Linked DNA regions of Homo sapiens: region 1 is linked to region 2. Evidence: fine-mapped expression QTL. A gene starts in region 2. The other region holds a variant in brackets. All regions are shown on one strand. Distances are between the middles of the regions.

The links.
Region 1: its variant is fine-mapped to the expression of ACACB in whole blood (INTERVAL, PIP above 0.99).

Annotation. Positions count from the first base shown.
Region 1 is chr12:109,154,374-109,164,759 of GRCh38, forward strand. The region is part of intron 2 of ACACB (acetyl-CoA carboxylase beta); the gene reads left to right. Among named protein-coding and RNA genes, the nearest start is that of ACACB, 43 kb to the left of the region's middle. RefSeq lists a silencer at 122-281. The variant G/A (reference allele first, on the strand shown) is at 3,845.
Region 2 is chr12:109,110,451-109,123,335 of GRCh38, forward strand. ACACB (acetyl-CoA carboxylase beta) reads left to right here and starts at 6,137. Exons shown (of 53, transcript NM_001093.4): 1 at 6,137-6,254. It overlaps LOC105369974 (a long non-coding RNA gene), which reads right to left. Exons shown (of 3, transcript XR_945332.3): 3 at 8,204-8,334. It overlaps UNG (uracil DNA glycosylase), which reads left to right. Exons shown (of 7, transcript NM_080911.3): 7 at 1-542. RefSeq lists an enhancer at 379-929.

The DNA.
Region 1 (10,386 bases), 43 kb after region 2:
CTCACATTTTAAATTTCCCATATTTTCCACCGCTTCCCTATCGTGTGTGTATTCAAGCATATCAATTGCTGCCAATATGTAGGGGTGTCCCATATTGGGGAGCAAAGCAGAAGAGAGGCTTTAAAAATATATATCTCCGCAGCTCATTTCGGCTGCCGAAGCTCAGCGGCGGGTCGGAGGTAGGCCGGCCCGGGGGCGGGGCTCCGTCCGGAAGGCGGGGCCCTCCTGGGGCGGGGTCGGTGTGGGGGCGGGGCCTGGGTGGGGCCTAGGCGGGCGCGATGGCCCGGGACTCTGGCGCGCAGGGTGCATTTCGGGATGGAGCAAGCGCAGCGCGAAGTTGGGCGCCCGCCGGCTGCAGCAGAACCCCGCCCGCGGCGCTCTAGGACTGCATCTCGGCCTCCGGGTCGCGACCTGGCTGTCCTGCTGGGTCCCGGGCCTCGGGTCGGCTTCAGGCGGTTAAGGGGTGCATGCTCTGCACCCCTGCGGGAGCCCGGTGGGATTGGCCTGCGGGGTGGTCAACATGAGTCCTGCCAAGTGCAAGATCTGTTTCCCTGATCGCGAAGTAAAGTAAGTAAGCCTGCAATTGTAATGACCATGATCTTTTACAAACTTACGCAGTCTTCCTTCCCCTTGAAGTCAAGCTGTGTGTCCTCTTAGCACCGCCCCCTTTACCCCCACCCCCATCCAAAGAAACACGGGCTTGAGTTGGCTGCTGGGGAGATGATGCCCGCCTTGGAAACTCTAGCTGGCCTTGGCGGGAGGGGAGGAAGGAGGCTGGACGTTGGGGGTGACGTTGCTTGGAGGAGGTCGCTTCGGAGCACACAGGTGCCTAAAGATCAGCCCTTGCGCAGGGGCACGCCTTCCCCGCTTTCTCTCCTTCGCCTCCAGAAGCTGATGGTTGTGGAAGGCAGGTCTCTTTTGAAGCTGAAGCCTGGGCAAATCGACGTGAACTTGAGCAGGCTCTCATTGAGGGTCATTTTCTGAGCAGATGAGCGTAGGCATCTCAGTGCCTGAGTGCTTTGTAGCTCTACCTACTTGGTTTTGTTTCTTTCCTTTTTTGTCCTCATTTTATTGCACTTAAAAAGAATTACCAAATTGATGGTGTGTCTGTTGTTGACAATTCAGAAAATTATAGATAAGCAAAAAAGAGGAACAAAAATCACCCATAATTCCACCCCTGTGATGTTTGTTAACAGTTGTATATTCTTCAGCTTTTTTTTTTTTCCGGTGCAGATATGTTTTAATTTATAAACTTGAATCATGCAGAACGTTCTGTAACTCACTTTTTCATTCAACATTAAGTATTTTTCTACCACTGGGCTTGGCAAACTATGACCCACTGCCTGTTTTGGGATGGCCTGCAAGCAGAGAATGGTTTTTTCATGTTTAAGTGATTGAAAAAAAAATCAAAAGAAGATTGTTTTGTGACACGTGAAAATTACATGAAATTCAAATTTCAGTGTCTACGAAAAAAGTTTTATTGGACTGCAGCCTGCTCATCGATTTATGATTTATGCCTAGTTCATGGCTGCTTTTGTGCCTCACTGGAGGATTTGAGTGGTGGGACAGAGACTGACCAGATCTAAAGTACTTACTGCCTGACCCTTGACAGACAATGTTTGCCAATCCCTGCCTACAACATGCTTTTACTGGATTCATAGTGTTCCTTTAAATGGGTGCACCTTAAAATGTATGAATAATCCTCGCCAGGCAGGGTGGTGCAAGCCTGTAGTCCCAAATACTCAGGAGGCTGAGGAGGGAGGATGCTTTTGCCCAGGAGTTGGAGGCTGCAGTGTGCTATGATCGTTCCTGTGAACAGCCACTGCACTCTAGCCTGGGCAACATAGCAAGACCCCATCTCTGAAAAAAAATGTGCCCAGGTGTGGTGGCTCATGCCTGTAATCCTAGCGCTTTGGGAGGCCAAGGCAGGAGAACTGCTTGAACTCGGGAGTTCGAGACCAGCTTGGGCAACATAGTGAGACCCCCATCTCTACTTAAAAAAAAATTAGCTGAGGATGGTGATGCATGCCTGGAGTTTCAGCTACTGGAAAGACTAAGGGAAGAGGATTGCTTGAGCCTGGGAGATCGAGGCTGTAGTGAGCAATGGTTGTGCTATTGCACTCCAGCCTGGGCAACAGAGCAAGACCCTGTCTCTTAAAAAAAAAGTATAAGTAATCCCCTATAAGTAGCGGATATTCAGGCTGTTTCTCTCTGTTTTTTTTTTTTTTTTTGGGGGGGGGCTATTATCAACAGCACAGTGAGGAATACCCCTGTAGCTGAATCTCTGCCTCCATCCTTTATTTTCTTAGGATATGTTTACCTGGTCCATAAACATTCATGCACACCTCCCATGCATAAGGCCTGCAACTGGTAGCAGGAAGGGTCGCAAAAATGGTTGGAAACCGTGACCTCCGCCCTCCAGGAACTTCGGTTCCATTGTGGAAGGCAGATGTCTTCTCAGTAACTCCAATTCGAGGCTGATGGGTGCAACAGTAATAGCCACTACCACTCATGGGGTGCTTTCAGTATGCCAGGCCAAGTGCTTTGTAGGTGTGGTCTCATGCCATCTTCAAAATACCACTGTGGGGGCACTAAGTGGAGAGTGTTGTACCCATTTCACAAACCACTTTAATGGAAAAAAAGAAAAACCTCACACAAATTTGGAATTGTCCCAGCAAGTCCAGGACGTGGGGTCCCCCTATTTATAATAATATGGACATACTTTGTTGGGGGACTACATTGTTCCTCTCTTAGCTTAGAGTGGCTAAAAAGATGGATTTGGACGATCTAACTTTGCCACCAAGCTGTGTGATCTTCTGGAGCAGGTACCATCAAGCCTTGGAACCTCAGTTTCCACATCTGTCCAAGGGACTAGCCCTCATAGGCCTTTCTAGAGTTGTTATTATTATTATTATTATTATTATTACAGACAGGGTCTTGCTCTGTTGCCCAGACAGTGGCATGATCATGGCTCATTACAGCCTCAGCCTCCGGGCTCAAGCAGTCCTCTCACCTCAGCCTTCCAAGTAGTGGGACCACAGGCATGCGCCACCACACCCAGCTAATTTTTGTATTTTTTAGAGAGACAGGGTTTCACCATGTTTCCCAGGCTGGTCTTGAACTCTTGAGCTAAGCAATCCTCACAACTCAGCTTCCCAAAGTGCTGGGATTACAGGCATGAGCCACCATGCCCGGCTCTTTCTTGGTCCGTTGAGACTCTGTGTGGAAGTCGCTGGTCTTGAGTACTGCCCTGGGTCAGCACAAACATTGATGAAAACTAATAAGTAAAGACAGAGTTCGGTTATGAAAGAGCCCTCTGGAGTTGGGAGGCATTTGGGATCTTGTGCTGAAGGCTCGGGCCATCTAAGAAGCCAGAACTCCTGAGAAGGTGAGGTCGCAAATGATGACTGATTTTTCATGGCATGAGAACGGGGTCACAGTTCAGAGAGTAGAGAAATGATTGTGGATCAGAGTGCAGAAGGGCTTGAAATAAAGTTGGGGATGAGGAGGCAGAAGTTGTTTTTTAATGAGTCCCATTTCACTGCCATGCAATTCTGCTCTGAAAGGCCAGCTGCCTGCATGCAAATATTGGCTGTAGACCTATCAGGGGTTTTCACTCTTGGCTACACATTAGAATTTCCTGGTGGGGAGATTTTTGAAAAATCTGGATGCCGGGGACCCCACCTCTACCCCCTAGACATGCTGATGGGACCCCGACATCAGAATCTTATAAAGTTTTTCATGTCAGGGTTGAAAACTCGTGCCTAGCTTGGGGTCAGCAGACTGCTATTATAAACGGCCAGACAGTAAATATTTTTGGCTTTGTGGCCATGTGGTCTCTGTT[G/A]TAACTACTCAACTCTGCTGTTTCCTGCACCAGAAGCCATAGTTATGTAATTGAACAGGCCTGGCTGTGTTTCAATCAGACATTATTTATAGATGGGGAAATTCAAAGTTCATATAATTTTTATGTGTCACAAAACAGGATTCTTTTGATTTTTTTTTTTTTTTCGATGACTTAAAAATGTTGGCTGGGCATGGTGGCTTATGTCTATAGTCCCAGCACTTTAGAAGACCAAGACAGGAGGGTTGCTTGAGGAGTTTGAGACCAGTCTGGGCAACATGATGAAACCCCGTCTCTACAAAAATAAACCAATTAGTTGGGCATGGTGGTGCACACCTGCAGTCCCAGCTACTCAGGAGGCTGAGGTGGGAGGATCACTTGAGCCCAGGAGTTTGAGGCTGCAGTGAACTATTTTTGCACCACTGCACTGTAGTCCTGGCAACAGAGGGAGACCCTGTCTCTATAAAAAACAAATAAGGCTGGGTGCGGTGGCTCACACTTGTGGTCCCAGCACTTTGGGAGGCCAAGGTGGGCAGATCGCCCTGAGGTCAGGAGTTCAAGACCAGCCTGGCCAACATGGTAAAACCCTGTCTCTAATAAAAATACAAAAATTAGCAGAGCGTGGTAGCACACATCTGTAGTCCCAGCTACTCGGGAGGCTGAGGCAGGAGAATCACTTGAACCTGAGAGGTGGAGGTAGCAGTGAGCTGAGATCACACCGCTGCACTCCAGCCTGGGCGACAGAGCAAGACTCCCTTTCGAAACAAACGAAACAAAACAAAAAACAATCTAAAAAGTTAAAACCGCTCTTAGCCTGTGGGAGATACAAAAACAGGTGGCCGAGTGGATTTGACCCATGGGTCCTAGTTTGCCCACTCACCCCTGGCCTAGCCAAGGTAGTCATCCCAGGGGGTACTGATGGGGCAGGTGGCTTGAGAAATTTCCAAGGGTCCATTTCTGGAGAGCGTGGTTTTGTGCTGTTTGAACGATATCAACCTTTACTGGGCTACACAGTGTTCTTTCTTGCTTTCTTGTTTGGAAGTAGTTGTAATTACAGAATTGCCTGGCTCAGAATCAGCTCTTAGCAGTGCGGGTAGCCGTTACCATCTCTATTTTATAGAAGAAAAGAGAGGGAAGAAATTGAAGGTCTGATTAATGCCGGGGCCCTAGCCTAATGGCCCAGCCTGGGCTCCTGTAATGCTATCCTGCAGACGTACATGGTAGCTAAAGTGTTGCAAGCTGTTTACTTTGGCTAGGTCCAGGGATAAACTGTTAATTCCATCATGTGAGGAAACTGAGGCAGGGAGTATTGAAGTAACTTTCCCAGGATTACACAGGTTATAAGCGGTAGATTCTGGCTTCAAAGCCTAGGAGGATGGCCGCAGTCTACCAGAGTTTCTAAACTGCGGCTCTGTTGACACTTGGGGCTGTCCAGTTCTTTGTGGGGCTGTCCTGTGCATTGCAGGGTGTTGAGCAGCATCCCTGGTCTCCACCCACTAGATGCCAGTAGCGCATCCCCCAAGTTGTGACAATCAAAGATGTCTCCAGGTATTGCTCCCCGGGGAGCAAAATTTCCCCCAGTTAAGCACTCAGGGCTGGGCGCGGTGGCTCACCCCTGTAATCCCAGCACTTTGGGAGGCCAAGGTGGGCAGATCACCTGAGGTCAGGAGTTCGAGACCAGCCTGGCCAACATAGTGAAACCCCATTTCTACTAAAAATACAAAAATTAGCCAGGCATGGTGGCAGGCACCTATAGTCCCAGCTACTCGGGAGGCTGAGACAGGAGAATCGCTTGAATCTGGGAGGCAGAGGTTGCAGTGAGCCGAGATGGTGCCACTTCACTCCAGCCTGGGTGACAGAGCTAGACTCTGTCTCAAAAAAAAAAAAAAAACCAACCAACCAAACAAAAAACCTCAGCATTATACATGTTTGTCTCTTATTTGAGAGGAATATAAGAGGCCATATGTGTAATGCATGTTTTAAAAGTCCAGTTAATAGAGGGGCTTCCATTTATCTCAGATTGTCTTTCTGCCTAGAAGTTAGATTCTGAGGTCAGCTAGAGTTGGATTTGAAACGGGGCTCTGCCACTTGCCAGCTGTGAAACTGGAGGTAAATGGTCCTCTCTGAACCTCGGTTTCCTCATCGTGAACCTGGAGATGACAGACTCCTCCATACAGGGCTGTGGAGATTCACTGAGAGGCCCCCTGTGCCCAGTCCATAGTGGGCAGCCGAGAATGTTTATTTCCTCCATTCCTGATACTATTCTGCCTGGTCTTGTGCTCCGGCAGCTGACTGCATTTGGTGTTTGGCTGACACCTCTGCTGTTGATTGTACCTGAAGTCATTTCCAAAGTCACCTTGAAACATTTCAGCTCTCACCCTTGCCGTGCTGTATAAGGACAGGGCTTCTCACTGGACAATGGCACTTAGGATGATCCTCCTTCAGTGGAAGCAAATGCTGGCCGAAGGTCAGCTCTCTAGAGCCAATGTTGGTTGGCTTCCAGCTTTATCAAAAAGAATTAAAATAGCCACTTGCCTGGAGATTGGGCCTGAAACAAGGCCAGTCCGGCAGCTTTGTGTGTTCGCTTGCCTAGCCTGCGGTAATGGGCTTGTGGCCTGCCTGATGGAGGGGCTCTGTCACCAGTTTCGAAATCAACATGGTGGCCAAGAATGGTTTTTTTGCCCCCTAGGCCACAAATGAAGTTTTTCTTTGTTGTGCTTTAGGTCAAATTGCTAGAGTTTTAATGTTTGTGTGTGTAGAAATGGGATGTCTCAGACTTTCTGAAGCTGAACCATCAAGCCAGCCAGTCAGGGAAGGTCGTGGACAGAATGAGGGGTGCGGCTGTGTGTGGGAATGTCGATTAGTACAACCTCTGTGGAAAACAGTTTGGAGAGTTCTCAAGGAACTAAAATAGATCTGCCAGTCTCTCCAGCAATCCCACTACTGGGTATGTACACAAAGGAAAAGAAATCACTCAGTCAGATTCGCTTTTCATTGGGAGGATCTTAACATGATTGGTTGAAAACAATAAATAAAATTAGCAAGGAGTCCAGTTGTGGGGTCTCACGCCTGTAATCCCAGCACTTTGGGAGGCTGAGGCAGGCAGATCACTTGAGGTCAGGAGTTCAAGACCACTCTGGCCAACGTGTAAAACCCCGTCTCTACTAAAAATACAAAATTTAGCCGGACATGGTGGCGGGCACCTGTAACCCTAGTTGCTCGGGAGGCTGAGGGAGGAAAATTGCTTGAACCTGGGAGGTGGAGGTTGCAGAGAGCCGAGATTATGCCACTGCTCTCCAGCCTGGGCGACAGAGTGAGACGCAGTCTCAGAAAAATAAAATAAAATAAAATAAAGAAATAATTATATCAAAAGACACCTGTACTTGTATAGTTATCACAGCACTATTCACAGTAGCAAAGATATGGAATCAACCTAAGTGTCCACCAACAGATGACTAGATACAGAAAATTTGGTGTATATATATATATAATTTTTTATGGCTCAGTAGTATTCTTTTGTGTGTATGTGTGTGTGTGGTGTGTGTGTGTGTGTATACCTACATGTATACATGGGTGTTCCTCTTACAAAATTAATAGCTTTTTTCTTATTGAAAATAACACATCATTGCAGAACATTTTTTAAAATATAGCAAAGAGATAACGGCTCTTAATACTTTAGCATTTTTTTCCCCCAGATCAGGGGTCTGTCTACAAATGATGTCCCTTGGGTTGCATCTACCTTTTTTTGTAAATAAATGAAGTTCTCTTTTTTTTTTTTTTTAGGTAGAGTTTCACTCTGTTGCCCAGGCTGGAGTGCAGTGGTGTGATCTCAGCTCACTGCAACCTCTGCCTCCCGGGTTCAAGTGATTTTTGTGCCTCAGCCTCCCCAGTAGCTGAGACTACAGGCGTGCGCCACCATGCCCAGCTACTTTTTGTGTTTTTTTAGTTGGGATGGGGTTTCATCATGTTGGCCAGGCTGGTCTCAAACTCTTGCCCTCAAGTTATCTGCCCATCTTCGCCTCCCAAAGTGCTGGGATTACAGGCGTGAGCCACCGTGCCCAGCGTAGCATTAACCTTTTAGAAGCTAGAAAGCAGATGAATGAGTGGTCACTGGCTTAAGGCTGAGTCCTAATGGAGCAGTGAGGAAAGTTGGGGACCCCTGGCCATCTGTACCACAGAACCCCCAAAAGGCATAGTGTCTGGCAGCAAGGGATGCCCCTGGAGCTGAGGGGTAAGGAGGGTACCAAAATGAGAAGGACAGGGTGGAAGACTCCCAGGTCCCCTCCCCTGTCTCCTGCGGCAGGGGCTGTCCACTTCGACCCCAACAGAAGGCAGCAGTTCAAAGGTACATATAGAGGGTCTTGGGAGAGGGGATCGACAGGCACAGTTGAGGGCATGGGGCCTGTATCCCAAATAGGAAGATAAGGGTCTGAATAGGTGCTGAATTCTTAGAACTTCCCCGTTCCCCCCGGGGCTCCAGGCTGACCTTTACTGTCCAGGCAGAAGACTGGAAAACTTCTCCCTGGGGAATCTGGCCAGCGAGAGAGAAAGACACAAAGATACTGACTCAGGGGATCCCCAACGCACTCCTACCTCACCCTACATTGAGCTCAGGGTCAACCAGGTCCACCACAGTCTCAGAAATTCTGTTCTCACTCATAGTCACAAGGTTGGAACCAAGGCTTCCCTGACATTTGGGTTCAGTTTCTTTTTCTTTTTCTTTTTTGAGATGGAGTTTTGCTCTTGTTGCCCAGGCTGGAGTGTAATGGCACAATCTCAGCTCACTGCAACCTCCGCCTCTCAGGTTCAAGCGATTCTCCTGCCTCAGCCTCCCATGTAGGGGGGATTACAGGTGCACGCCACCAAGCCCGGCTAATTTTTTGTATTTTTAGTAGAGATGGGGTTTCACCATGTTGTCCATGCTGCTCTCAAACTCCTGAACTCAGGTGATTCACCTGCCTCGGCCTCCCATAGTGCTGGGATTACAGGCGTGAGCCACTGCACCCGGCCCTGAGGTCCAGTTTCTCATATGTAAGTCAAGGTCCAAACCAGTAGACACAGGAAGCTTGGAAGAAACAGAAACCACGCTGGAGAAGAGAAGTTTAAAAAGCTCTCATTAATATCATCGTTGAGGTCAGACAGGATGTTGCACTCATAGGAAGAGGATGCTATAACAAAGGGAACATTTGTAGGCCAAAAACAGGCTCGTAGACATCAAAAACATGATAGCAGAAATGAAGAACTCCACTGAATGTTTAGAAGATGAGGCTGAGAAAAATCAACCAGCAAGTAGAAGAAGAGAGAGAATAGGAGAGGGGAAAAATGCATAAACCAGTAGGCCAGTGTAGGAATTTCAACATCCAGATAATAGGACTTCGGGAAAAAATAGAGAAAAAAAGAGGCAAGGACATCATCAAGGAAGTATTTGTTTCTTGTTGTTGTTGTTGTTGTTTGAGATGGAGTCTCACTCTATTGCCCAGGCTGGAGCGCAGTGGCACAATCTTGGCTCACTACAACATCCGCCTCCTGGGTTCAAGTGATTCTCCTGCTTCAGCCTCTCAAGTAGCTGGGATTACAGATGCACACCACCATGCCCGGCTAATTTTTGTATTTTTAGTAGAGACGGGGTTTCACCATGTTGGCCAAGCTGGTCTCTAACTCCTGACCTTAAGTGATCTTCCCACTTCAGCTTCCAAAAGTGCTGGGATCACAGGCGTAAGCCACCATGTTCAGCCCATCAAGGAAGTATTTGAAGACAAATTCCCAGGATGGAAGTTTCCAGATTGAGAGGGCCTGAGAGATGTGCAGCCTCATTGGTGGAAGCAGACACATACTTGAGCTCATCACTGTGAAATCATAGAGTTCTGGGGACAGAGGGACGCTCCTATAAGCATCTGGATATGAAAAAACAGGTCACCTACAAAGGATCAAGGATCAGAATTACTCTTGTTCTAGCAGCCTTGGAAGCCACAACACAATGGCACAAGGCTTCTAAAACTTGAAGAAGGTTTTCCTTCCTGAAATTTCTTTTTGTTTGAGATAGAGTCTCACTCTGTCGCCCAGGCTGGAGTCCAGTGGCGCGATCTCGGCTTACTGCAACCTCCATTCTCTGGGTTCAAGCAATTCTCCTGCCTCAGTCTCCCAAGTAGCTGGGATTACAGGTGCACAACTCTGTGTCTGGATAACTTCTGTATTTTTAGTAGAGATGGGGTTCACCATATTGGCCGGGCTGGTCTCAAACTCCTGACCTCAAGTGATCTACCCACCTCAGCCTCCCAAAGTGCTAGGATTACAGGCATGAGCCACCATGCCTGGCCCTTCCTAGCATTTCACACACAGCCAAGTGGTAAGGTTGAATGTGAGGGCAGGAGAAAGGCTGAAGTGCAATGGTGCAATCCTAGCTCACTGCAGCCTTGACTTCCTGGGCTCAAGTGATCCTTCTACCTTAGCCTCCTGAGTAGCTAGGACTACAGGCAGGTGCCACCATGCCTAGCTAATTTAAATTTTTTTTTTTTTTTTTTGAGATGGAGTCTGACCCTGTTGCC
Region 2 (12,885 bases):
AGGAGTCCTCAGGCCCCTCGCAGCATAAGGATGTTTTGCAACTTTCCAGAATCTGGCCCAGAAATTAGGGCTCAATTTCCTGATTGTAGTAGAGGTTAAGATTGCTGTGAGCTTTATCAGATAAGAGACCGAGAGAAGTAAGCTGGGTCTTGTTATTCCTTGGGTGTTGGTGGAATAAGCAGTGGAATTTGAACAAGGAAGAGGAGAAAAGGGAATTTTGTCTTTATGGGGTGGGGTGATTTTCTCCTAGGGTTATGTCCAGTTGGGGTTTTTAAGGCAGCACAGACTGCCAAGTACTGTTTTTTTTAACCGACTGAAATCACTTTGGGATATTTTTTCCTGCAACACTGGAAAGTTTTAGTTTTTTAAGAAGTACTCATGCAGATATATATATATATATTTTTCCCAGTCCTTTTTTTAAGAGACGGTCTTTATTGGGTCTGCACCTCCATCCTTGATCTTGTTAGCAATGCTGTTTTTGCTGTTAGTCGGGTTAGAGTTGGCTCTACGCGAGGTTTGTTAATAAAAGTTTGTTAAAAGTTTGTTTTGTGCAAGTGTCCTTTGTGCGTCCAGGCCAGGGCATCCATGGACGTCCTTGGGCTGCCCTTTCCCTTGGCGCCTCCCAGGGTTCCCATAGCAACCACCGTCTGCAGGAGGGGCCGCCCTTGCCCCTCCTCCCCGCCCTGCCGCTCAGTGGAACGGCCCAACCCTCCCCTGGCTGCGGTGAGCGCTGGGCCCAACCCCCGGCCTGGAGCAGCGCCCCAACTCCGAGCACCGTGGAGCACCGGCTGCCAGCTGAGACCCCAGAGGGGTAACTAACGGCCTGAGGAAGGCATTTCTTCGGGGAACATGGCGTGCCCGTCGTGGCTACGTTCTGCCAAGCCCTGTGACGTTGGAGGGGAGCCGCCTGCATCCCCCGCTCAGCCAGTGTTTCTAGACTCCGAGACATCTGGAACTCGGAAGTGAGGCCAGGGCTCCAGGAAGACTCCCTGATGACGCACTGGCCCGCAGCCCAGGCTCAGGTAGTGGGGGCTGTCAGGATGATCTGTGGGATCCCCCAGTGTCCGAAGAAAGAAGCCACAATTGTGTTTTTTTTTCTTTCTTTCTTTTTCTTTTTTTTTTTTTGAGCGAGTCTCACTCTGTCGCTCAGGCTGAAGTACAGTGGCGCGATCTCGGCTCACTGCAACCTCTGCCTCCAGGGGTCAAGCAATCCTCCCACCTCAGCCTCCCAAGTAGCTGGGATTACGAGCATGCACTACCACGCCCGGCTAATTTTTGTACTTTTAGTAGAGAAACTTTTAACTAAATGGGCAAGAAAGAATGCATCCAGCCAGAACCTCGAGACTAGCAAATGCATTTCTTAAAAGGGCAGGGAGGGAGACCAGAGTTTGCTTGAAAATACTGCTTCCTTTCCTTATCTATGTAGGGAAGGGTTTATCATTCTACATTTTGTGGTCAGCAAGCTGGCTTTCACGGGAGGAGGATGCATGGTCGATTTGCCCTCTGGTAACTTTGGGATCTTCCTCTAAACAACAGTGGACTCCCTTAGCCAAGGAAGAAGTGAAGGGATAATTGTGCTTACACCAGTTAGCTTTTCACACTTCTCTCTCTCCCGGTGCAGCACTGCCGGTAGGGGGAGCAGTGAGCTCCAAGTTTCCAGGAATAATTCAAAACACAATTATTTTATATTTTAAAATATAAAATGTATATTTTAAATATATATACATACATTTCTATATAATATATACAAAAGTTCAATATACGTATATTGAATATATATGTATATAAGTTCAATATATATGTATGTATATTCAATATATATGTATGTATATATGTATATATATTCAATATATATGTGTATATATTGAACTTTAGTCATGTGGTGACACTTTAAACAGTACACAGAGCAGCTTCTGGGTCCATGACCCTCCAAAAATTTAATTACTGATTCTTTAGAAACTAGGCAACTCAGCCAGGTGTGGGGGCTCACGCCTGTAATCCCAGCACTTTGGGTGGCCGAGGTGGGTGGATCACCTGAGGTCGGGAGTTCAAGACCAGCCTGACCAGCATGGAGAAACCCTGTCTCCACTAAAAATACAAAATTAGCCAGGCGTGGTGGCACATGCCTGTAATCCCAGCTACTTGGGAGGCTGAGGCAGGAGAATCACTTGAACCCGGGCGATCGCACCATTGCACTCCAGACTGGGCAACAAGAGCATAAGAGCAAAACTCCGTCTCAAAAAAAAAAAAAAAAAAAAACCAACCAGGCAACTCATTTTGATGAACTCTTAGCTATGTGGTAGTTGCTTTTTTCATGTGTCAAGTCTGCTATATTCCTGCACTCAGTATGCAAAGATGCATAAAAGGCAGTCTTAGCCTTTTAGGTCAGCGGTTGGCAAACTTTCTGTGAAGGGTCAGGTGGTAAATATTTGAGGGTTTGCAGTTACCCGTTCTCCGTGGGAACTGCTCAACAACTCACTGCAGAGAAAGCAGCCGTGGGCAAAACGTACAGGAACGGGCGAGGCTGTGTTCCAATAAAACTTTATTATTTATGGACACTGAAATTAGATTTTAATATGATTTTCATGTGTCACGAAATCTTTTTTTTTCCTAAGCATTTAACAAATGTAAAAACCACTCCTAGCTTGGGAGCTATTGGAAAACAGGCATCTGGAACCACAGTCTGCAGACCCCTGTGTGTACTCACTGTCAGTGCGGTGGGAACAAAAAGGCAGCAACGGCTGGGTCAGCCCAGGAAAGAAGACATTTCCCAGTGGAGAGAATGTCTGAGTGGATATTGAACTTTCCAGGCCACAAAGAGGAACAAGAGCATTCAACACTGAGGAGCCTGCCTCTGCAAAGGCAGGACCCACATGCTGGATGTGGAGCTGGATGGTTCCACGTGGCAAGGTTTGGGAGGCTTCTGAGAACCTGGCCTAATGATTCCTGTTTCCTCCCTTTTCAGGTGAGTTAGGGAGATCTCTGACAGCTTTTGGAATTGGTAACACAAGGAAGTCAGTTATTAGCAAATGTTGTACTGGAAACGTCCAGTTATAAAATAATTAATTGTGTGAAAGTCACTGCCTGCTTTTGATCTACATCCAGCAGGGGAAGGTCAGGGACTATAAATTGTTTGCATTTTTTAAAGATAGACTTTAGCATGTTGCTAGTATGCTTGCATTATTAGATAATACATCTCTGTTCAAATTCACTTTCTGCTTCAGTTTGCTTCTCATATAAAAGTCTTCGCAAGTATGTTTGGTGGAGAAGCAAACTTTTTGGCGTATGCGTGTGGTGTTGGCTTTTCATCCTTGCCAAACCTTCAAGATTTGCAAGGAAAAACAGGTTGCAGGGAGGTGCTCTGGGTTACTTTGAAAAGACCTCACATGCTGACTTGTGCTGACTCAAGCTGAGGAAAGCTAGAACATTCCTCTGCTGGAGATGGCCTCCTTGTTTAGAGTCCTTCTGACACTGTAATTTGGGTCTGACAACAGGAAGTTCCTTTGTAGTTTAAGTCAATGGGAACCAATTTTTTTTTCTTTTTTTTGCGATAGAGTCTCACTCTGTTTCTTAAGATGGAGTACAGTGACTCAGTCATGGCTCACTGCAGCCTCAACTTCCTGGGTTCAGGTGATCCTCCTGCCTCAGCCTCCTGAGCAGCTGGGACCACTGGTATGCACCACCATACCTGGCTAAGTTTTTAATAGAAATGGGGTCTTGCTAAGTTGCCCAGGCTAGGGAACCAGTTTTTAAGTTTTTGAAATATGCTTGGAAATATAAATATTGGTGAGCGGAGCAGACCAGGAGATCAATAATTTATGTTCTCTGCTTGTTAGTTGTGTATATAGCATGTTCTTTTGTCTCTCTTAATGATGTTTGGGGTGAGGGTGTGGGAGAGGAAGGTAGGGAGCCTTCCAACAAGAAGCTAGTGCTCCTCCAGCCTAGAGAAGCTAAAACATGCAAAGCCAGACCCCATCCCTGGAAATTCTGATTTAATTGGTGGGGGAAGGCATGTGAATTCTCACAGAGGGTCCGGTTTGCAGCAGGACTGGTGATTTCTTTCCAGGTGCCTTGTTTTGTTAGACCATGTGGTCACTTAATAATTTTTTTTGGGCCAGGTACAGTGGCTCATACCTGTAATCCCAGTGCTTTAGGAGGCAAGGCAAGAAGATCGCTTTAGGCCAGGAGTTCAAGACCAACTTGGGCAACATAATGAGACCTTGTCTTTAAAAAAAAAAAATTTTTTTTTTTTTAATTAGCCAGGGGTGGTGTGTGCCTGTAGTTCTAGCTACTTGGGAAGCTGAGGCAGGAGGATCATTTGAGCCCAGGAGTTCGAGGCTGCAGTGAGCTATGATCATGCCACTGCACTCCATCCAGCCTGGGCAACAGAGCAAGATCCTATTTCTAAAACAAAACAAAACAAAACAAAAAATGTAACTTGATACCTGTGACTTTCTGAAACTAACAGCTGTTTGAAGAAATATATTTCTATTACCGTTCTTGTGTTTGATGGAAAGAGTTTATGAATAACTTTGGTTTCAAGCCTTCCAATTATATTCTGGAAAATACCTGTGTCTTAAAGAGATAGTGTCTAGGGAGAACTGAATCACTGCAGAGTTCTTCACCTGTATGTGTGGGTATGTCTAGTCTTTTTGCAAGTAATGAATTTCATTAGAAAGATATTAAGTGCTTGTCATGAGCAAGCCCCTGTGCCAGAAACTCAATATAAATCATTTCATTTTCTCACCCATATGGTGAAGTAGTTGATGAGGACACTGAAGCTCAGCCATTTGCTCAAAGTCATGGCTAATGGAGGGAGGATTCAAACCCACATCAGCTTGATTTCAAAGCCTAATAGTCCTGCCACTGTCAACACCCTGCCTAGATCATGATTATTTGGAATCACTGGGAAAGAATTTTTTTTTCATGAAGTTAGAAGCCTAAGAATTTTTTTCAATGGAATTTTATAAAAATGTCCTTGAATCACAGATGGCTCTCCCTGGAAACATAGGTTTGTTTGAGAGTCACCTCTTTTATTGTCTTAATAAATAGACTAAGAGCCATCACAAGGGCTACTGTGGCTAGAGAACATATGACTCGGGCCGGGCATTGTGCAGGCATTTGACCTGCATTCCTTCACCCCGGTTCCTGTAACATGTACCTGGTGCTGTGGGGTTACAGCTGATAATGCTGAGGTTTCCAGAGCACATGCTTCCAAGTCCAGTGGAGAAAATCCCAAGAAGTCCAATATTCAATGACTGTTCCTTATTGCAAAATAAGCCCAGAAACAAAGTAGCTGTGAACAGGCTGCACCAGCCCCAGCAGCAATTTCCATTTAAACCATTTTGCACAGATCCCGTGCTCAGCGCTCTCGCCAGTTTCTCCACTTGCTGTTTAGTAAGGCCATCATTGTTGGCAGGAAGTGGGTTCCACCTTCCCTGTTGCCTGAGCACAATGTGCTCCTATGTGGTCTCCACTTTCCTGCTGCCTAGTTGGCTGGGCTTCTCCAGCTGGGCCTTGGAGGCGACCTTTGTCCCACATGCCAGCCCTCCCCACGTTGCAGAACACTATGTAACTGCAGCGTGTGCTGAATTTCCTCTTCTGTGCTCAACCCTAGCAAGAGCCAGTCAACCCTGAATGAGAATGTGGCAATGGAGCTGTTTTTTTCTTTTATCCCCAAGTCACAAGAAATTGGAAACATTCCATTAAGTGGCGTGATTTGAGAGGGTTTCGCCAAATCTTTTCAGGGGAGAGAAGCCAGGTGACCTGATAGCGATCACCTTCCCATTCACGGTTTTCAATGGGGGCTTGTTTCTCAAATGACCAACACCTGTAGGCAGTTAATTTTCAGCATGTCACAGGAGGGCCCAGATGACTTTCTGCCTACTGCTTACGACAACATGGACTTTAGATGCCTCATGGCTTCAACAGCTAAGAATTATGAAATAAAGCGAGTTATGGGATTAAAAGGCAGATAGCAGAACTCTCCCAGGAGTAGCCAGGGCTGCACAAGTGGTTTGACGTGGGATCTTTCTCATCTTTGCCCCGGGTTGTTGCTGCTTTGAAGGTTAAGTGCTCCAGGGATATTTTTAAACAGCAGGGGCTGATTAATCTAAAAGTGACATTTGCAGTCCCCAGAGTAAGCAGCTAGCAGGCTTAGATTCAGGCCCTCAGCAAACAAGGAACCTGGAAAATGTAACCCTGAATGCACGGTGGGGAGGACATGGCAAGAGAAAAGCGGCAGGAATAAAGTGGTAAGTCAGCTCGCCCCTCCCCGGGGTCCGGACCATTCTGCCAACGTCCAGGTAAATTCGAACCCAATGTATAGTGAGAGCAGACCCTGTCTGAAGGCATGCACTTGGGGTCCCCGGGGAAAAACGACTCCCGTCATGTTTGAAGGAAGCTAATCAGAAGAGCTCGAAATGTAACGCAGATGAAAGAGAAGGGCCTTTCTTTGCTTCTATAAATGGTGGTGTGGATCCCTGGACATGCTCCCATATAAGTTCCACAACGTTTTATAAACAATTCTGTTTTTTGCCTCCAAAGCTACTGTCTTAAGGAATAGTATTCTGTTTCTGTTTCCTCAAATGGTTGTTCTTTTTTTTTTTTTTTTTTTTTTTAAAGCAGACTAAGGCTGGGCACGGTGGCTCATGCCACCCAGCACCTTGGGAGGCAGAGGCAGGTGGATCACTTGAGGTCAGGAGTTCGAGACCAGCCTGGCCAACATGGCGAAACCCCATCTGTACTAAACACATAAAAATTAGCCAGATGTGGTGATGGGCACCTGTAATCCCAGCTACTTGGGAGGCTGAGGCAGGAGAATCGCTTGAACCCAGGAGGTGGGGGTTGCAGTGAGCTAAAATTGCGCCACTGCATTCCAGCCTGACTGACAGAGCAAGACTCTGTCTCAAAAAAAAAAAAAAAGAAAAGAAAAAGAAAAAAAGGAGACTAAGAGTAAAGCGTTTGTAGTGGTCCTATATCCTATATTTCTAGGAAGACATGACTTTCTTTCAATGTTGAAAAAATGCATTCCAAAATAATATGCAAGTTAAAAAGTCACTCAGCACCGTGCAAAAGTCTCCTTGCTGTTATTCCTGTCTAACCCTCCTCCTCCAGGTAGCCACTGTGCACATTTTGGTATAAACCCCCCAGACCTTTTATTCTGTACACTCACACTGTACACAACTCTCTCCCTCATGTCTATTGTGATTACTTTTATTTTTTAATATCAATGGGCATCCATATAGGTTGGGTGACCAACCATCCCACTTTGCCCAGGACCGGGGAATTCCCGGGACATGGGACTTGCAATTTAAAAACTGAAAGGTGAAGATATTATTATTATCATTATTATTTGAGATGGAGTGCTCACTGCAAGCTCCGCCTCCTGGGTTCACGCCATTCTCCTGCCTCAGCCTCCCAAGTAGCTGGGACTACAGGCACCCACTACCACGCCCGGCTAATTTTTTTTGTATTTTTAGTAGAGACAGGGTTTCACTGTGTTAGCCAGGATGGTCTCGATCTCCTGACCTCAAGTGATCCGCCCGCCTCGGCCTCCCAGAGTGCTGGGATTACAGGCATGAGCCACCGCGCCTGGCCAAAGATATCATTTTATAAATTGCATGTTTCTGCTAATAGTGACATGGAGTTCTTTACAAGATTTCTTTTTATGACTTCTCCAAGTTTTAAGTGGAAAGACCCAGCCAATCCTAATTCATGTGATTTAGAGATGAAAATATCTCTAATCTGTAACTTTCTTTCAGAAGCTCTTAAGAGTTTTATTTGCTCCTGCTCAGGTGTTGTGTAAACTCGCTCATACTTTCAACACCTTTAGGTCTGAGACAGAAATTTGAGTATTACATTACATGAGATACCCAGTCTTCATGGGGAAATAAACATTTTAATCTTTTGAAATGGAGGTTTCCTTGAAGTCTTATCCCAGTAGAAACTTTGACCTTGTTCTTTTTTTTTTTTTTTTTTTGAGACAGAGTCTCGTCCTGTCACCCAGGCTGGAGTGCGATGGCACAATCTCAGCTCACTGCAACCCCTGCCTCCCAGGTTCAAGCAATTCCTCAGTCTCAGTCTCCCGAGTAGCTGGGATTGCAGGCAAGCACTACCACGCCCAGCTAATTTTTGTATTTTTAGTAGAGATGGGGTTTTGCCATGTTGGCCAGGCTGGTCTCGAACTCCTGACCTCAAGTGATCTGCTCACCTTGGCCTCCCAAAGTGCTGGGATTACGGGCATGAGCCACTGCACCCGGCCTGGAATACCTTGTTCTCATGCTTCCTCTGAATTTGTGATTCAGTGACTTGTTACTTCAAAGTAGAGTTCACCTGTACCCAGGGAAACCAGGAAACAGAGTTAGAAATATTGCATTTGATCGGAAAAATGTATGCACATTTCACATCCTATCCTAATAGATCTCTCTGTTTGCAGTGATAATAGTAAATTTATGACCGTAGAGTAAGGTGATTTTCTAGGAAGATAGACCGTGTTCATTTATTCCAGGAATCCAGGGATCCTTGTATCAGAGAATCCAGGCTGGGCACAGCAGAGAAACCAAGGTATTGATTATTGGGTAGTTGGCATACCCCAGGTATGCCATAATAATTATGGGATCTCACATAATTTTGAGGACAATCCTAGGAAGGAGATTTTATTTATTCCATTCCACAGGCCAGGAAACCAAGGTTCAGAGAATTTCCATGATGGGCTCAGGCCAATCAGATAACAAATGGCAAAGCCTCCACCCAAGTCTGCTGTACTCCAGAAGTCCTGCTCTCTGGGCTCATACCTTAGCCACTCTGACCCTTGCTGGGGCCCCAGAAAACAACTACACATAGAAAAGGTCTCTTCAGGCCAGACACAGTGGCTCACGCCTGTAATCCCAGCACTTTGGGAGGCTGAGGAGCTAGATCACTTGAGGTCAGGAGTTTGAGACCAACCTGGCCAACATGGTGAAACCCTTTCTCTACTAAAAATACAAAAATTAGCTGGGTGTGGTGGCTAGTGCCTGTAAACCCAGCGACTTGGGAGGCTGAGGTAGGAGAATCACTTGAACACAGGAGGTGGAGCTTGCCGTGAACCGAGATGGTGCCACCGCACTCCAGCCTGGGCAACAGAGCAAGACTCTGTCTCAAAAAAAAAAAAAAAATGATTTTGAGACAGGGCTGGGTGGCTCACGCCTATAATCCCAGCACTTTGGGAGGCTGAGGCAGGCAGATCACTTGAGGTCAGGAGTTCAAGGCCAGCCTGACCAACATGGCAAAACCCTGTCTCTACTAAAAATACAAAAATTAGCCAGTTATGGTGGTGCGCCTGTAATCCCAGCTACCTGGGAGGCTGAGGCAGGAGAATCGCTTGAAACTGGGAACCAGACGTTGCAGCAAGCTGAGATCGCGCCACTGCACTCTAGCCTGGGCGACAGAGCGAGACTCCATCTCAGAAGAAAAAAAAAAAGGATTAAAGGATTTTCCACCACTCCTGTTGAACTAATTAAGCTCCATATTTTTAAATTAAATAATGAGTGAAGGTGATATCAGAGGACAACTTGAACACACTCTCCTTTCTATTTAGAAGCAAATCAGCTGCAGACTTCAATACTAGCTATTATAGAATAATCAGTTGTTGGACATGCCCCTCCCAACTGACCTAGAAGGCTTTCTCTGCTGTGTTATAAGGAAGGCTTCGGTCTTTTATTTCCATACTCCCCACAAAGTGAGGCTTTTGGAGCTCTTCTGATATGGAGAGCTGCCCATGCAAGGTGGAAACAGGCCTCCAGGGCCAATCAGTTTGGGAAACACCAGGCTGCCTGTGGTTTACAGCAGGACTTCTCAGAGCCTTTACTATGCTAAATGCAGTGGGACTCTCCAAGATGTGACATTGGGATTTGGCCCTAGAAATGTTATTTTTTGGCAAGGGTGGGGACCATCTTTCAGGATTGGTATTCATAGCCACCTCTTGCAAAACATGGAACCGTTTCATTCCATGCCTTCCTCATCTCCTTGCAGGATCCTGGGAGGCAGGACCATGGAGTGGATGAGGTTCACAGGCTCGAGCTCTTGAGCAGGGGGCAAGGGGTGTGTGTGTGCATGTGTGTATGCATGCATGTGTGTGTGTATGTGTGTGTGTGTAAATAGAGCACTGTCTCCCAGGGTTCTGGATGAATTTGAACAGGGAGAAAGTAGAATTGATTCAGTGAGATCTGCTAACAGGCTGTTGCACTAGCTCAGCCTTGGAGTGAGGCAATGGTGGGCGTAGGGGAAGGGATGAAGAAAACACACCCACACACGTGTGCCACACACGTGCACACCTGGAGCTGGAGGGCCCAGCCCGGGGCCCAGCTCTGCCACTCACTGATGTGACTCTGAACAACAGACTTTCTCTCTGTGCCTCATCTTATCATTTTTGTGAACATTTAAAGAGATAACACACACAAAGTGCACAGCATAAGACTCAGTGTGTAGGAGGTGCTCAACAAACATCAGCTTTCTTTTTTATTTTTTTGAGACATAGTCTTGCTCTGTTGCCCAGGCTGGGGTGCAGTGGCGTGATCTCAGCTAACTGCAACCTCCACCTCCCAGGTTCAAGCGATTCTCCTGCCTCAGCCTCCCAAGTAGCTGGGACCACAGGTGCATATCACCACACTCGGCTAATTTTTGTATTTTTAGTAGAAACAGGGTTTCACCATGTTGGCCAGGCTGGTCTCGAACTCCTGACCTCAAGTGATCTGCCCGCCTAGGCCTCCCAAAGTGCTGGGATTACAGGCATGAGAGACCACACCTGCCAGCTTTCATTCTTATTCAACATGCTTTTATGGGTTCCTTGAGGGACTACTATATGCCTCCTAGTGTATACTGGAGTTACAAAAGAACCCTATTTTCAGAGTTGCAAATAGACTGGGGAAGGGGTCGGGGGAGATGAAGTCAGAAATTGATGATAAATCTGTGCCCCTCTGGGTTTTAAGCCTTGCCTGCTCTCACAGATCTTACCTTCTAGTGGGGGACACTGGTAGATGTGTAATAATGACCCACATAACTACAACCTATGATGAGTGCCAGGAGGAAGAGATCAGGGAACTGTGGGGCATAGAGCAAGAGCATGGTGTTCCATGGCATCTCTCTGGTGGCCCCTGATACAGCAGTATGAGGGAGCAGCCAGCAGGGGTTCAACAGCCGTGCAGATGCCTGTGCCCAGGGCCTCACCTGGACACTCCCAGCCCCAAGGACTCAGTGGAGCAGGAGGATTCCCCAGGTAGGCAGCAGGGGTGGGGGTGGCACAGACACACCTGAGCTGGGTGCAGGCCTCCAGCAAGTGTTCACTGACCCTGACGCTTCTGTGTGCTAGGCACTGTGCTGGAGAGCCCAGAGCAAGACAGAGCCACTCCTTGCCCTTAGGAAGCTTCTATTCCAGTGGAGAAGAGGCATAAACTCATTGGTGAATGCAGAGAGTCAGGTCAGCACGTGATGAATGGCACGTGTCCTACAGAATAAGACCACTGAGTATCAGGGTGGGTTTGAGGTGGGGACACTGAAGCCAACCATCAGAAAAAGAGCAAGAGATAACCATGCAAAGGACAGAAGTGGGGGCAGGGAAGGGAAGAACATTCCAGAACATTCCAGGCAGCATGTGCAGAGGAACGTAGAGGGGTCAGTGTGGCAGAGGCCGGTTTGCCAGGGCCATGTAGACCATGGAAAGGGGTGCAGTGAGCAATCATTGAAAAGGTGAAATTCAGTTTATCTGCTTACTACCCGGGTGAGTGACTTTGCGTCACTTCAACTTCTCGAACCCAGAACTTCCTCATCAATAAAACGAGGCTTCCCCTGCTACTGGTCTCACAAGGTGGAATGAGACAATGATTATAAAATGCTTCATATAGGCCAGGTATGGTGGTTCATGCCTGTAATCCCAGTGCTTTGGGAGGCCAAGGCGGGAGGATTGCTTGAGTCCCTGTCTGTATAAAATATAAAAAGTTTCGCTGGGCGTGGTGGCACATGCCTGTAATCCCAGTGCTTTGGGAGGCCGAGGAGGGGGATTGCTTGAGCCCAGGAATTCAAGGCTGCAATGAGCTATGATTGTGCCACTGCACTCCAGCCTAGGCGCCAGAGTCAGACATTGTCTCAAAAAAAAAAAAAAAAAAAAAAAAAGATGCTGAATACAGAGCCTAGCACAAATTAGTACTCATAAGTATTAGCTATTAATATTCAGGTTTCAGTCAGCTGGTGGGTACTTGCATTGTATTTTATGAACTTTTTAACTTTTTGGTATAGGAAAAAAAGTTGACCTGTTTTTTTTTAACACCTTCAGAAGCAGAGTAAATAGCACAGTGGTCCCCCAATGCATTCATCAGCCAGCTTCAATAACCATTGCCTTTCTGCCCTTCTAGTTTCATCTTCCTATACCCATTTTCCCTATATTATTCCCCCAACATTTTATTATAAAAAAATTTAAGCTGGGTGCAGTGGCTCATGCCTGTAATCCCAGCACTTTGGGGGCCAAAGTGGGCGGATCACGAGGTCAGGAGATCGAGACCATCCTGGCTAACATGGTGAAACCCCGTCTCTACTAAAAATACAAAAAATTAGCCGGGCGTGGTGGCAGGTGCCTGTAGTCCCAGCTACTCAGGAGGTTGAGGCAGGAGAATGGCATGAACCCAGGAGGCGGAGCTTGCAGTGAGCCGAGATCGCACCACTGCACTCCAGCCTGGGCGACAGAGCGAGACTCCATCTCAAAAAAAAAAAAAAAATTTTTAAACATACAAGTTGAAAGAATTTTACAGTGGGTGCCCATATACCCCTGATTAGATTCTGCCATTACCATTTTTCTGTATTTGTCACCTGTAAATTGCAGATATCAGTGTCTTTATCCTTGAATACTTCAACATG